Linked DNA regions of Homo sapiens. The protein of the gene in region 2 purifies or fractionates together with the protein of the main gene of each other region. This does not show direct contact. Each region holds a gene or a part of one and is shown on either strand. Other genes may lie near its edges.

Evidence for each region. Proteins that work in one complex are often made in the same cells at the same time.
Region 1: the proteins of C1orf198 (region 2) and CLIC4 fractionate together in Homo sapiens (co-fractionation; one large-scale study listed by BioGRID). This does not show direct contact.
Region 3: the proteins of C1orf198 (region 2) and UBR3 purify together in Homo sapiens (affinity purification with mass spectrometry; one large-scale study listed by BioGRID and IntAct). This does not show direct contact.

What each region holds. Positions count from the first base shown.
Region 1 is NC_000001.11:24,810,948-24,815,941, reverse strand, and holds part of CLIC4 (chloride intracellular channel protein 4), read right to left. Parts: intron 1,849-4,994; coding exon 1,723-1,848; intron 1-1,722. UniProt on the Homo sapiens protein: In the soluble state, catalyzes glutaredoxin-like thiol disulfide exchange reactions with reduced glutathione as electron donor. Can insert into membranes and form voltage-dependent multi-ion conductive channels.
Region 2 is NC_000001.11:230,840,581-230,845,574, reverse strand, and holds part of C1orf198 (uncharacterized protein C1orf198), read left to right. Parts: intron 1-1,678; coding exon 1,679-2,221; intron 2,222-4,994.
Region 3 is NC_000002.12:169,920,955-169,925,948, reverse strand, and holds part of UBR3 (E3 ubiquitin-protein ligase UBR3), read right to left. Parts: intron 2,021-4,994; coding exon 1,955-2,020; intron 1,866-1,954; coding exon 1,776-1,865; intron 331-1,775; coding exon 202-330; intron 1-201. UniProt on the Homo sapiens protein: E3 ubiquitin-protein ligase which is a component of the N-end rule pathway. Does not bind to proteins bearing specific N-terminal residues that are destabilizing according to the N-end rule, leading to their ubiquitination and subsequent degradation.

The DNA.
Region 1 (4,994 bases), about 210 Mb from region 2:
GAACATTGTTGAAATGACAACAAGGAATTTAGAATATTACATCGACTTAGTTGTTAAAACAGCAGGAGGGTTTCAGAAGATGGATTCTAATTTTGAAAAAGGTTCTACTGTGGGTAAAAACACTATCAAACAGGGGTGCATGTTCTCAGGACCTCTTGAGATTAGCCTCAGGCAAAGAATATTTACTTTAAAATTTTTAAATGCTATCAAACACTATTGCATGTTACAGAGAAATCTTTCATGAAAGGAAGAGTCCATCAATGTAGAAAAATTCATTGTTATCTTACTTCAAGAAATTGCCACAGCCACCCCAACCAGCAATCACCATTCTGATCGGTCAGTAGCCAGCTACATCAAGGCAAGACCCTCCATCGGCAAAAAGATTGACTCGCTGAAGGCTCAGATAACCATTAGCATTTTTTAGCAATGATTTTTTTTTGAGACGGAGTTTTGCTTTTGTCACCCAGGCTGGAGTGCAGTGGCACGATCTTGGCTCACTACAACCTCTGCCTCCCTGGTTCAAGCAATTCTCCTGCCTCAGCCTCCCGAGTAGCTGGGATTACAGGTGCCTGCCACCACGCCCAGCTAATTTTTTTTGTATTTTTTAGTAGAGACGGGGTTTCTTCATGTTGGTCAGACTGGTCTCGAACTCCCAACCTCAGGTGATCCATCCGCCTCAGCCTCCCAAAGTGCTGGGATTACAGGCATGAGCCACCACACCCAGCCTAGCAATGAAGTATTTTTAAATTAAGGTACATGCAATATTTTCAGACATAATGCTATTATTGCACACTTAAAACACTACAGTATACTACTGTAAATATAACTTTTACATGCACTGGGAAACGAAAAATTTCACGTGACTCATTTTATTCCAATATTCATTTTATCACTGTGGTCTGGAACCTAACTCGCAATGGTCTGGAACCATACCCTTCAGGGTATGCCTATAATTATTTTAGAACCCTCCATCTCAATAATCCCATTCCTGGAAAATATATCTGGACATGGAGGGCAACAGTCAAGTTAACCAGTAAGAAAGGTTTTGGTCAGTAGAAACAAAACATGTCAATTTTCAGGATAATGAAACTGGAAAAGCCTAAAAGAAACAAATAATGCTTTGAATCTATGCCAATATTACAGTATGATGCAAAGCTGCATATCTGCAATTTAGGTAACTATCATTACAGTACATCCAGGACCTAGAGATCTGGAACACCTCAAAGAAGTAAGTAAATAAAAACTCTGAATCCTAGGGACACAGTCGGAAAAGTCAATGTCCTTGGATTATAGCTTTAGAAAGTTACCTTTAAAATGAACTGAAATCAAATCTCATTGCAGTCCTGTGCCACACTCCTGCTAAGACATTCTTACTGGGTTCAGTTGGAATGTGTCTTTCCCCACCCCTTCTCCTCTTTAAACTTCTCTCTCAGTTTGAGACCTACAGTCCACAAATAACCAGTCTTTCCTGACCTATCAGACACATCCCAAATCTGTTTCTACCACATATTCTACAGCTTAGACAAATCCCCACCTTTCTTAGTATGGCTGATTGGCCTAGCTGGAAGCCAATTCTTATATCTGTGTAGCATTAATTATAAGAAACATAGAAGAGAGTCCTAGTCATTCCAAATTAATGCTGCGAGAAAGATCTCTACTGACAAATAACACAAGCTTCAAAGAAGTGACAATATTTTCATACGTATTTTCCTTGATACTCACTTGGGAGGGCATAAGACTTCTTCAAGAAATTCCTCAATCTTATTTACATCCGTTTTGACTTCACTGTTGAAAGTTATAAATGGTGGGTGGGTCCCGGGAGCCAAGTTCTGCAGGTCTGCTGGCTTCCTGTTGGGCAAAATATTGGTCAAAATCAGATCATTTTTTACTCTTAAACAACAATAATACTTTAAATTCTCAAAGTTGGCCAGGCACGGTGGCTTGCGTCTGTAGTCGTAGCACTACAGGAGGCTGAGGTGGGACACTGCTTAGCCCAGGAGTTTGAGACCCAGCCTGGGCAACATGGTAAGATCCTGTCTCCACAAAACATAAAAAATTAGCCAGGCATGGTGGTGCGTGTCTATAGTACCAGCTACCAGGGAGGCTGAGGTGGAAGGATCACTTGAGCCTGGGAAGTTGAGGCTGGAGTGAGCCATGATCGCACCACTGCACTCCAGCCTGGGCGACAGAGAGACCCTGTCTCAAAAAGAAAATAAATAAATTGTCCGGGCATGGTGGCTCATGTCTGTAATCCCAGCCCTTTGGGAGGCCGAGGCGGGTGGATCACCTGAGGTCAGGAGTTTGAGACCAGCTTGGCCAGCATGGTGAAACCCCATCTCTGCTAAAAATATAAAAATTAGCTGGGCATGGTGGTGCGCACCTGTAGTTCCAGCTACTTGGGAGGCTGAGGAAGGAGGATCACTTGAACCCGGGAGGCGGAGGTTGCAGTGAGCTGAGAATGTACCACTGCACTCCAGCCTAGGTGACAGAGTAAAACCCTGTCAGAAAAGAAAAAGAAAAAGAGAAAAAGAAAAAGAAAAGAGATCAAAGTGGTTCTAAAATTTAAAGTATATAAAACTGAATAAGAAATGGTATTTTTCAGCCGGGCACGGTGGCTCACGGCTGTAATCCCAGCACTTTGGGAGGCCAAGGCAGGAGGATCACGAGGTCAGAAGTTTGAGACCAGCCTGACCAACATGGTGAAACCCCATCTCTACTAAAAATACAAAAGTTAATTGGGCGTGGTGGCATGTGCCTGTAATCCCAGCTACTCAGGAGGCTGAGGCAGGAGAATCGCTTGAATCCCGGAAGCAGAGGCTGCAGTCAGCAGAGATCTCACCACAGCACTCCAGCCTGGGCGACAGAGCAAGACTCCATCTTAAAAAAAAAAAAAAAGAAAGAAAGAAAGAAAGAAAGGTATTTTTCAACCAGGTGTGGTGGCTCACGCCTCTAATCCCAGCATTTTGGGAGGCCAAGGTGGGCAGATCATGAGGTCAAGAGATTGAGACCCTCCTGGCCAACATGGTGAAACTCCGTCTCTGCTAAAAATATAAAAATTAGCTGGGCATGGTGGCATGCACCTGTAGTTCCAGCTACTTGGGAGGCTGAGGAAGGAGAACCACTTGAACCCGGGAGGCGGAGGTTACAGTGAGCCAAGATCGCACCACTGCACTCCAGCCTGGTGACAGAGCAATACTCTGTCTCAAAAAAAAGAAAGAAATAGTACTTTTCCACTAGATATAATAGCTGTAATAGTATTCTAATAAGAAGCAAGCCTCCACAAAATACATAATTTATGGTAAGAAAATGCTTTGATTTTTTTTTTAACCAAAATACAAAATCCATCATTCTCATTCCAAATTAACTAAGTCACTCATTAGAGATAGTGATAGAATGAGGAGGGAAAAAAGATTTTGGAGAGTTAGTGTCTGGTTTCAACTCTGGCCCCAACTAATTGTGTAAAGATGGGTAAGTCATGACTTCCCTAGGCCTTTTTTTTTCTTTTTGGCAAAATAAAAGAGAAAAGCAGCTGAATCCTGCAGTCATCTTCAACTTCAAAAGATTCCAAATTCTGGTGCTATTTCTTTCCCATTATTCTAGAAGTCCAGGCTTGACAAGGAAAAGGATCACCAGATTAGACTATCTAATATCAAAATTACTTCAATACATAAAAGATGGCATAATGAAGGGTAAAAAGCAACAAAGAATGGACAAAGTACTGAGTGAGAAAAGCTTAAAATCTACATTACCTAAGGATTTTGTCCAAATTCATTCCAAAGGTCATCAAAAAAATCAAATAGGTATGGGTCAAAAGAAATTGATGAGAGACAGATAAAACAAGTGAACACACAGAAAAATGTAAAATAGCACAACTATAAAGGGAATTTAAAAGTAAACAATAAGATGTCTTCCTCCTGTTGATTAGGAAAAATTGAAAACACCACAAAACACTGATAAAGATGGTGAAACTGTTATGCTGACAACTACTAACAGCAAGAAGTGTTTGTACTATCTTGTTAAAAAAGCAAAATGGCTCACCCAAACCCACCAATGAATTTTAGGATCAAAAAATGAGATGACCAGATATGGTGTGTTTCCTATGGCACCATGAAGTATTCTTACCAAAGAAGTTGACCCTGAATCTAATCAAGCCTCTGGGGCAGGCTGGGTGCAGTGGCTCATACCTGTAACATTAGCACTTTGAGAGGCCAAGGCAGGAGGATTGCTTGAGTCCAGGAGTTCAAGCGAGACCAGCCTGGGCAACATAGTGAGATCCCATCTCTATAAAAAAATTTTTTTTAATTAGCTGGGTGTGGTGGCATGTGCCTGTAGTCCCAGCTACTTGGGAGGCTGAGATGGGAGGATTGGTTGAGCCCAGGCGGTCGAGGCTGCAGTGAACAGTGATCATATCACTGCACTTCAGCCTGGGCAACAGAGTGAGACCCTGTCTCAAAACAACAACAACAACAAACCAAAACAAAGCAGCCTCTGGGGCAGCTGTTTCTCAAATTGTAAGCCAGGAGACCCTTTCACCAGGTGATCCATTAGGTCAGAACTATTCTTATAATACTAAGGCATCATTTGCCTTTTTCACTCTCATTCTCCTCTCGTGCACATATAGTAAAATTTTCCAAATTTACTTGGCTACTTGGTACAAGATATCACAAGGTAATGAATGCAGAAGCAGACACGAGAAACCTCTTCTAAGATGTGCAAAAATGTAAAAGAATGCCACTCTTCTCACTATTTTTTGTTTTGGGAAATATAGTTGTTTTACATTAAAAATGTTTTATGGTAATAAGTAGTGGGTTCATTATTGTTCTATATTTAATGAATTAGTAAATGATTTTTTTTTTTTTTCCTGAGACAGAGTCTCACTCTGTCGCCCAGGCTGAAGTGCAGTGGTGCGATCTCGGCTCACTACAAGCTCCATCTCCCAAGTTCACGCCATTCTCCTGCCTCAGCCTCCCAAGTAGCTGGGACTACAGGCGCAC
Region 2 (4,994 bases):
GAGTAGATGGGATTACAGGCTCCTGCCACCACGCCTGGCTAATTTTGTATTTTTATTAGAGAGGGGGTTTCTCCATGTTGGTCAGGCTGCTCTGAAACTCCTGACCTCAGATGATCCGCCTGCCTCGCCTCCCAAAATGCTGGGATTACAGGCGTGAGCCATCGTGCCTGGCCTATTTTTAGTATATTTTTTGAGACAGGGTCTTGCTCTGTTGCCCAGGCTGGAATGCAGTGATGCAATCGTGGCTCACTGCAGCCTTGACCTCCCAGGCTCAAGCAATCCTCCCACCTCAGCATATTGAGTAGCTGGGGACCACAGGCGTGTGTCATCATGCCTGGCCTTTTTTTTTTTTTTTTTTAATTTTTTTAATTTTTAGTAGAGAAGGGGTCTCACTTGTTGCCCAGGCTGGTCTCAAACTGGGCTCAAGCGATTTTCTATCCTTAGCCTCCCAAAGTGCTAGGATTATAGGCGTGAGCCACCACATCTGGCGTATTAATTTATTTTAGAAAGAGGCAGGGAAATATGAGGGAGTAGAAATGGTGAGGGAAGAGAGAAGTCTTCAGAATTGATTTTAGAAATGATTGAGATTACAAATTGCTTGTTCTGCAGAGCTTGGAAGACAACATTCTACTCCAAAGAGGAGGTTTAGGTTGCCATGTAATGATTTTGTTGGTCAAAACAGCTCAGCAGTGTCATTTTTAGAGATCACTGTGGTTAGCAGCATCCAGATCAAGGAAAGCATTTTGTGGGTGCTCAGATGTGGGGCATAGGCTGTGATGGGTGCCAGGCCCTGCCCTGCCCTCTGGGTGTTTGTGATCTGAGGCTGGGTTCTGACCCTGGCTGCGATGTGGCCTTTTGTTGCAGTGTGCACCTTTCCTCGTTATCCTCCCAATGAGGGTCGTCACCTGCCAGGAAGGTGCTAGAACCACACTGGAGGAGACAGGAGGGTGCCCTGTTTACCAGGCAGAGAGCCCTTACTCATCGGTAATACTCAGATATCTTGAGCTGCATGTAGCATAGTGCATGAGGGAGTGTATCAGTGTGTTCTTGTGTTGTTTTAAAGAAATACCTGAGACTGGGTAATTTATAAAGAGAGGAGGTTTAATTGGCTCACGGTTCTGCGGGCTGCACAGGAAACATGGCATCGGCATCTGCTTGGCTTCTGGGGAGGCCTCAGGGGGCTGTGGCTCATGGTGGAAGGCGGAGGAGAGCAGGTATCTCACATGGCAGAGCAGGAGCAAGAGGGAGAGAGTCAGGGGGAGGTGCCACACCCTTTTAAACGACCAGATCTCATGAGGACTCACTATCATGAAGACAGCACCAAGCCATGAAGTCACCATCATGAAGACAACATCCGCCCCTGTGATCCAGACACCTCCCACGAGGCCTCACCTCCAGCACTGGGGATTACAGTTCGACATGAGATTTGGGAGGGGACCACCACCCACACTCTGTCACCCGGCCTTGGCATTTAAGCTTCTGATGCATTTCAGGTGTGCGATGGGAGTCCTGACCATACCCACCACTCAGGACAGACAGTTCCAGCACATGGGCAACAACTCGTGTGTGGCTGGTGTGCGTCCTTATGCTGAGGAGGGGTGCGTGAGCTGGCACACTTGTGACGGTCGATTCTCAGGATCTCTTTCTTTTTTCTGTCCTTTCTCATGTCCCACCCTAGAGTCAGATGGAGTTCAGTATCTCCGCCCTATCCATCCAGGAGCCGAGCAACGGCACCGCCGCCAGCGAGCCCAGACCACTGTCCAAAGCTTCCCAGGGCTCCCAGGCCCTCAAGTCCTCCCAAGGCAGCAGGTCCTCCAGCCTGGACGCCCTGGGCCCCACCAGGAAGGAGGAGGAAGCGTCATTCTGGAAGATCAATGCTGAGCGGTCCCGAGGGGAGGGGCCTGAGGCCGAGTTCCAGTCGCTGACCCCTAGCCAGATCAAGTCCATGGAGAAGGGGGAAAAGGTCTTGCCTCCCTGCTACCGGCAGGAACCTGCCCCGAAGGACAGGGAGGCCAAGGTGGAAAGGCCCAGCACCCTCCGTCAGGAGCAGCGTCCTCTTCCCAACGTGAGCACCGAACGTGAGAGACCCCAGCCTGTCCAGGCCTTCAGCAGTGCACTGCACGAGGCTGCCCCCTCCCAGCTCGAGGGGAAGCTGCCATCTCCTGATGTCAGGCAGGACGATGGGGAAGACACCCTGTTCTCGGAACCCAAGTTTGCACAGGTGAGTGGCCTTTACCAGCGCGTCCTCAGATGGGATGGTGCCTTATTCCACGGGAACCGAGAGGGTCCCCCACAAAGCAGGCAGGCCACAGGTGCCCATGCTCTTTTTCTTCTCCTTCCCCTGCCTCTTCCTCAGAGGATGCCTAGGCTCAGGGTGCTGAGCCACCAACAAATATGCAACAAGACAAGTTTTGCGAGTCCATCTGGGTGCCCTAATTTGTTTACCAGTCAGGGTTCCGTGGCCCACTGCGCTTTCCCCAGTGCGCGGGCTGCTATCAGAAGAGGCCCCTGGAAGGCGCTGCGCCCAGGGCTGTCACAGCTCAAAGCTGTGTTGGGCCTTCTTTTTGGGAGCTGTCCATAGAGGCAATGGTCTGTTCTTTAGGACTGGTCTGGATTTGGGCCAGGGGAGCTGCCTGTTGGCAAAGCAGGCAGGCACACTTGAGAGGCCTCACTGGGTCTTGCCCCTCTGTGGGCCTCGCTGGGCTCCTGGCTGCCTTGCTGAGGAGTGAGCCCAGGATGCAGTTGCCTCCATGGTAGCCTCACCCATCCTCCTCTGGCCCTTGAGACTCCTTGGTTCTTGTGGGTCACTCTTTTTTTTTTTAATTTTTATTTTTTAAATTTTTTATTTCCATAGGTTTTGGGTGGTATTTGGTGACATAAGTTCTTTAGTGGTGATGTGTGAGATTTTGGTGCACCCATCACCCGAGCAGTGGACACTGAACCCAATTTGTAGTTTTTTATCCCTCACCCACCTCCCACTCTTTCCCCGAGTCCCCAAAGTCCATTGTGTCATTCTTATGCCTTTGCATCCTCATAGCTTAGCTCCCACTTATGAGTGAGAACATATGATGTTTGATTTTCCATTCCTGAGTTACTTCACTTAGAATAATAGTCTCCAATTACATCCAGGTCGCTGCAGATGCCATTAATTCATTCCTTTTTTGGCTGAGTAGTATTCCATCGTATATATATACCACAGTTTCTTTATCCACTCATTGATTGGTGGGCATTTGGGCTGGTTCCATATACTGAATTTTAAAAGTTTTTATTATGGTAAAATATACAAACATTTACCATTTTAACCATTTTACAGTATAAATTTGGTGGCATTTCAGTACATTCTCAATGCTGTGTAACCATCACTACCATCCATCTCCAGAACTCCTTTCATCCTGCAGAACTAAAGCTCTGGACCCGTTCAACACTAACTTCTCATTCATCCCTCCCCGCAAGCTCCTGGCAACCACCATTCCACTTTCTGTGTCTGTGAATTTGACTCCTCTAGGTACCTCATATAAGTAGCACCATATAGTATTTACCCTTTTGTGACTGACTTACTTTACTTAATGTGACGTCTTCAAGGCTCATTCATGTTGTAGCAAGTGTAGAATTGCCTTCTAAGGCTAATATTCCATCGTGTGGTTAGACCACATTTTGTGTATCCACTCATCCATCGACAGACACTTGGGTTGCTTCCACCTTCTGGCTATTGTTGTCTGTTAGGAATAGTGCTGCTGTGAACGTGTATGTACAAATAAGTCTTCCAGCCCCTGCTTTCCCTTCTCCTGGGTGCATACCCAGATGTAGAATTGCTGGATCACATGGTGGTTCTATTTCTACTTTTTTGAAGAACCTGCATACTGTTCGCCACAGCAGCTGCGTCATTTTACATTCCCATCAATGTGGGTTCGCGTTTCTCCACTCCCTTGCAACACTTGTTATTTTCTGTGTCTTTGCTGGTGCCATGCGAAGGGGTATGAGGTGGTGTCTCACCGTGGTTTAGACTTGCCTGTCCATGATCGTGAATGATGTTGAGCCTCATTTCATGTGCTTATTGGCCATCTGTGTATCTTCTTTGGAGAAATGTCCAATGGTCCCTTGCCCATTTTTAAATTTTTGGTTATTTTGTTGTTGAGTTGAGATCATCACTGATAACATTGAATGTCCCCCAGAGCAGGTTTCCAGTACTTCCACACCTCCCTCGGCAGATGGCTGCACGTGCTGTCCTCCCGAGGAGGGAGGATCCAGCGGTGCTAGTACCTTCTGCCCACCTCGGCTCCACATCAGTGCTCTAGCCTGTCCTCTTCGTGTTTCTGCACCTTCTTAAGCTAGTGCTTTCAGCCCTCTTGTTTCCTGCCTTCTCCGGTACCTGCCCATCTCTCCGTTCTGTTTTCTGTCTCACATCCTCCTGCCCATCAGCTCCTCCTTACAGACAGGCTCAGTTCCCTGCCTCCCTAACCAGCACTCTTTCTCTGAGACTCGGCACTGAGGGCTTCCTCTGAAAGAAGTATTTCCATAAAATAGGTGATAGTCCCCACTCTAAAGAGAAGCAGGAACGTGTTTCTGTGTGGGCAGTGGAGAGTAGGAGACAGCACATGAAATTCCTTTGAGAGAACAGATTTCTGAGTAAAGCACAGTGAAATGCCACTGCATTTAAGAAACTGGAAGGAAACCAGAACAAGGAAAACTGGATTGCACTCCTTCCATTCTGCATGTTTTGCCTCACTCTGCACCAGTCTCACATGTAGCCAAACTGGGCCTGAGACAGGTGTCAAGGGCAAGCCCATTAGCCCATTGCCTGCTCTTGCCGCCATGTATGCATTTTCTGCTGGCCGGCTGCTTGGAGGGTGGAGAGTCAAGGTTTCTTTGCTCAAGAAGACCTTGGCGCACCAGGTAAATGCCTGCCGGTGTTAGGCTGGAGGAAAGGGACATCAGAAACAGGCTGCTGAGTGGAAGCCAGTCAGAAGTTTTATGAAAACAGCAGCAGCTTGAGA
Region 3 (4,994 bases), on a different chromosome or scaffold from region 2:
CCTCTTGACCAAAATCTGGTGCTTTCCTTGTAGCCTTGTGTTGGGTGGTATGCCTCTTCTCCTGGGAAATGTAAGTAAAAAATTATTCTTTCAATGGCATTGGCCTCTCCATGTCATCACGCAGTCACCTCTATAAATTAAAATCCCTTGGGTACAAATGAGACACTTCTAAAGTATATCTGCATTATCTAGCTGGCTTACCTGTAACAGGTAAATGTCAGGATCAATCATGGAATTACAGAAATGAGACTGGACATACGTCATGGCTTGTCCTTTGATTTGCAGACCATTTCTTACCCACATATTGCTGTGGATTTCTGCAAGACTTGCCTAATAAAAGTAAATTGGACAAAGAATAAATTATCTAAATGCAATCTTTACAAAATATTATAAATAACCATTTCAAAATATTTAATGATGTGATCATAGTATAAGCCCGATATTCTGTCCAATGTTAAAGATAATCAGTTGAAATATACATTTTTACATTTTTTTTAACAATAATTATGTTTTTACATAGCCACTTTTTTAGAGTTTAAACAAATGAGTTGGTTTTCCATGTTGGCCTCTGGATACATTTATGATGATTTTCACTGACATCTTTCATAAGAAATCAATGCTTATGTTTCACTCTATTTCTCCCTCAAGAAAACCCTAAGTAACAACAACAACAATCCTAATATACATGTTTAAAGAAAGACACTAGAATAAGCATAAAATAAAACCAACTGTTCAAAGTCAATGAATACATTCTACATCTTTAATTCACCCTAACTCAATCTTAAATCTATACTGCTAATTTTCCAAATATTGGAGGTTAGAATAAATGTTCTCACTACATCAGTATTTAATTCTTCATGTATTTATGTCCAGTGTCAACTAAAACTAGGCAGTCATCATTTTTTTTGTTTTTTTTGAAACAGAATCTCACTCTGTCGCCAGACTGGAGTGCAGTGGCGCGATCTTGGCCCACTGCAACCTCTGTCTCCCAGGTTCAAGCAATTCTTCTTGCCTCAGCCTCCCGAGTAGCTGGGACTACAGGTGCACGCCACCATGCCCAGCTAATTTTTGTATATTCAGTAGAGACAAGGTTTCACCATGTTGGCCAGGATGGTCTCGATTTCTTGACCTCGTGATCTGCCCGCCTTGGCCTCCCAAAGTGCTGGAATTACAGGCGTGAGCCACCACACCTGGCTTCAAGCAGTCATAATTTTATGTTTCCTAACACCCAGAGTTCAAGTTCAATATTATAATAATTAACAAATCTAAAATTGCCAGGAAAAACAAATGGAAGTGCAAGTCCCTCTAATGTATATAAAAAGCTGGCCTGTCAAATTACATTGCTGGTATTAAAAGAAATCACAGTGCTTATATAAGCTAATTCTTCTCTCCTCTTTCTCCTCTCACTATACAGATAGGGAAACTGAGAATCAAGGAGGTGAATTACCTTAAACCTTGCGGAAAATAAAACAGTGGTAGCACCAAGGCTAGAATCTTTTGGATCTCCTGACTCCCAAAACAGTGCTATATAGTATGTTAAATACCACCCCATAAGCAAATATCATGAAAAGAATTCCTGGAAAAAGTAAAACTAAAAAGTAAATCTCATAAAATGAAAAATACCTAAACATAATCTAGCAAAAATACAATAACAACTTTTTAAAAAAAGTTTTCAAACATCTCAGCTATAATAACAATGAAAGGCATATAAATAAAGGAAGAATCACTTAAACAAGGAATCCACTTCAAAACTTTTTAAATGCCTGAATACATACTTGAATTTGGAGTGGGTGAATCATTAGTTTCATTAACATTTCCTGATCTGGTAAAACAGAATCCAAATCTAGTTCTTGACATTTCACAGCCTAAAAATTACAATAAAAAAGTTACTAATTCAATTCTTATTTCTGAAAATTAAAAAAAAAAGAACAGAATTGTTTAATGACAGTCTTACCTTACTCAAAAACATAGCATAGTAACGATGTAGTGGCAGATGAAAAGTGACTTGGTTAGGTGCTGGCTGGAATAAACAAACAAAATGCACAAGTCAAAGACTATTTTATAGAAATTTTAAGATGGTTGTAAAATGTTTAAACCATACTCTCACCTGGATTTATTCCTATACTTTTAGTTCAAAACTTAACATTTTAGAAGATGCAGATTCCAAAATCACTATAGATAAAATTTTTCCATTTTAAACACTTAAGTATAAGTTTCTTGAAGGCAGAAATTGTATTCTACTCAACTTTGAATCCTCTGAAGCATCCAGTACAGATTAATATTTCCTAAATTCAATTCAGCTAAAGCAAATAATTATTATTAAAACAAGGGATGGAATGGATTTCCAGCTACAGTAGACCATTTGGGACTCTTCAAACGCATGTATACCAAACATCATGACAGTAATAACAGTCACATATAACATTCATTGAACACTTCCTATGTGCCAGTCACCATGCTAAGCACTTTATTCACATTACCACATTTAATCCTCAGAAGAATGCTATGGGGTAGGAGCTACTAATATTCTCATTCTACAAGTAGCAAAATTCAAACTTAGAAAACTTAACTAACTTCCTAAAGTTCAAAAGTAGTGAACTGGGGAGCTAATCTGGACTCCACTGTCATATTCAAAACTGTAAGAAGACTCTGACCACATCCCTAAACAGAGGTATAAATGCAGGGCATCGTTAGATTCCTTCACCAGTTAGATAAGATGCTTCCAAACAGTACCAAACGCACCAGCCTCCATAACAAAACTTCATAAAAAATATGTGAATGACCTTAGGCATTCCTGTAAATATTACAAAAACTGTATTTTAAATCTGTGAATCCCATGGATCACAAAATCACTACAGGGCAAAAATACACCACAGCTGTCCTTCTTAAACAAATGAGTTAAGAACTGAAAAGGTATTGTTTGTTTTTAATGCTTTTTAAGTTCTTATTAAATATTCTCTTGTTAAAAATGTTTATCCCGGACATTCAGATAATTATGCTAATGTATATAATTTACATTATAGAGGTTATAAGGAGTCTAAATATGTCACCATCCCTGAAATAATTATTTTTTTCAAAACCAGTAAGATAATAATATCCTCTTCAATATGTAAAGGCTATAAAAATTTGTTCTAATAAATAAAAGTTTGCCCTCCATAAAAAGAAAGGAAAGTCTAACAATGTTCTGTAACATGAATAAACCTTCGGGATATTATGCTAAGTAAAATAAGCCAGTCACAAAAAGACAGTAACTATATGATTCCACCTATATGAGGTTCTTAGAGCAGCCAAATTCGTAGAGATACAAAGTAGAATGGTGGTTGCCAGAAGCTGGGGGAAGAGGAAATGGGGAGTAGCTATTTAATGAGTATAGTTTCAATTTTATGAGATAAAAAAGTTATGGAGATTGGCTGCACGACAATACAAATACACATAACACTACTGAACTATACACTTAAAAATGATTAAGATAGTGAATTTTATGTTTTCTGTGTATTTTACCACAATTAAAAATAAAATTTTAAAAAGTTTGCCCTCCATTACCATAATCGCCTTAGTAACATATTCTACACTAACTAGCTAAGTCAGAATCTCCCTCAATTTCCTTTGAGGCACTAAGCACAGTGGATAAGTGCAGACTCTTTTTTTTTTTTTTTTTTTAAATAGACAGGGTCTCACTCTGTGGCCCAGGGTGGAGTATGGTGGCACGATCACAGTTCGCTGCAACCTCCACCTCCCGGGCTCAAGTCATCCTCCCTCCTCGGCCCCCTGAGCAGCTGGGACTACAGACACACACCACCATGCCTGGCTAATTTCTGTTTTTGGTAGAGACAGGGTTTTTGCCATGTTGCCCAGACTGCTCTCGAACTCCTGGGCTCATGCAATCTGCCCGCCTCAGCCTCCCAAAGGATTGGAATTATAGACGTGAACCACCAGGCCCAGCCTAGGTGCAGACCCTTTTTTTGAGTCTCGCACTGTCCCCCAGACTGGAGTACGGTGGCGCGATCTCAGCTCACTGCAACCTCTGCCTCCCGGGTTCAAGCAATTCTCCTGCCTCAGCCTCCTGAGTAGCTGGGACTACAGGCATGTATTACCACACCGGCTAATTTTTGTATTTTTAGTAGAGACAGGGTTTCACCATGTTGCCCAGGCTGGTCTCAAACACCTGACCTCAAGTGATCCACCTGCCTCGGCCTCCCAAAGTGCTGGGACCAAAGGCGTGAACCACTGTGCCTGCTTCCTAAGTGCAGAATCCTGGTTCTACCACCCAGCTGTAAAACTATGGGCAAGTTACCTCTCTGTGCCTAAGTTGTCTGATCCTTAAAGTAGGAATAATAAAGAGTTTAGTAGCTGCGAGAAATAAGTAAAACAGCACAGTACCCAGTACATATTGCTATTAACTAGTAAGCCATGGACCCTATTTTATCTTTCAGGGCTTTAGCATATCCTATGTTCACATTCTCCATAACGTTAAAGTCCATATTCCTTCCTTGTCTAATGTCACAGACTGGCTACTTGATAAGCACTTCTTCTATTCCTATATATACTGAGAGTCCTTGGATTCCATTCTTCACTCTATAGTCTTCTATGTGAATTTATCCAGATTCACAGCTTCAGCTGCTAACTCTACCCAGATGAGTTCCAAATCTCAGTGGAAATCTCACTCCTGAACTCCAAATCTTACATTCAGGTGTCTACTGAACAGCAATACTTAATATTCCATAGGACCACAAATACAGCGTGTCCAAACCAAACTCAGTATCTTTGCCATAAAACTCAATCCTCCTCAATATTTCTTCTCCAGATTCCCAGTAATTTAAATATGAAATGTAGACTTCCTCCTTCTCACAAGCCTCCTATATTTGATGAGGTATCAAATTATGTTTACTTATTTTTTAAGTATCTCTTAAATCCACTTTCTTCTTTCTGTCTACACTGCACCTAACTAACCTTAGCTCAGGCCCTCAACACCTAGTGCCTAGATTTTAGTGATA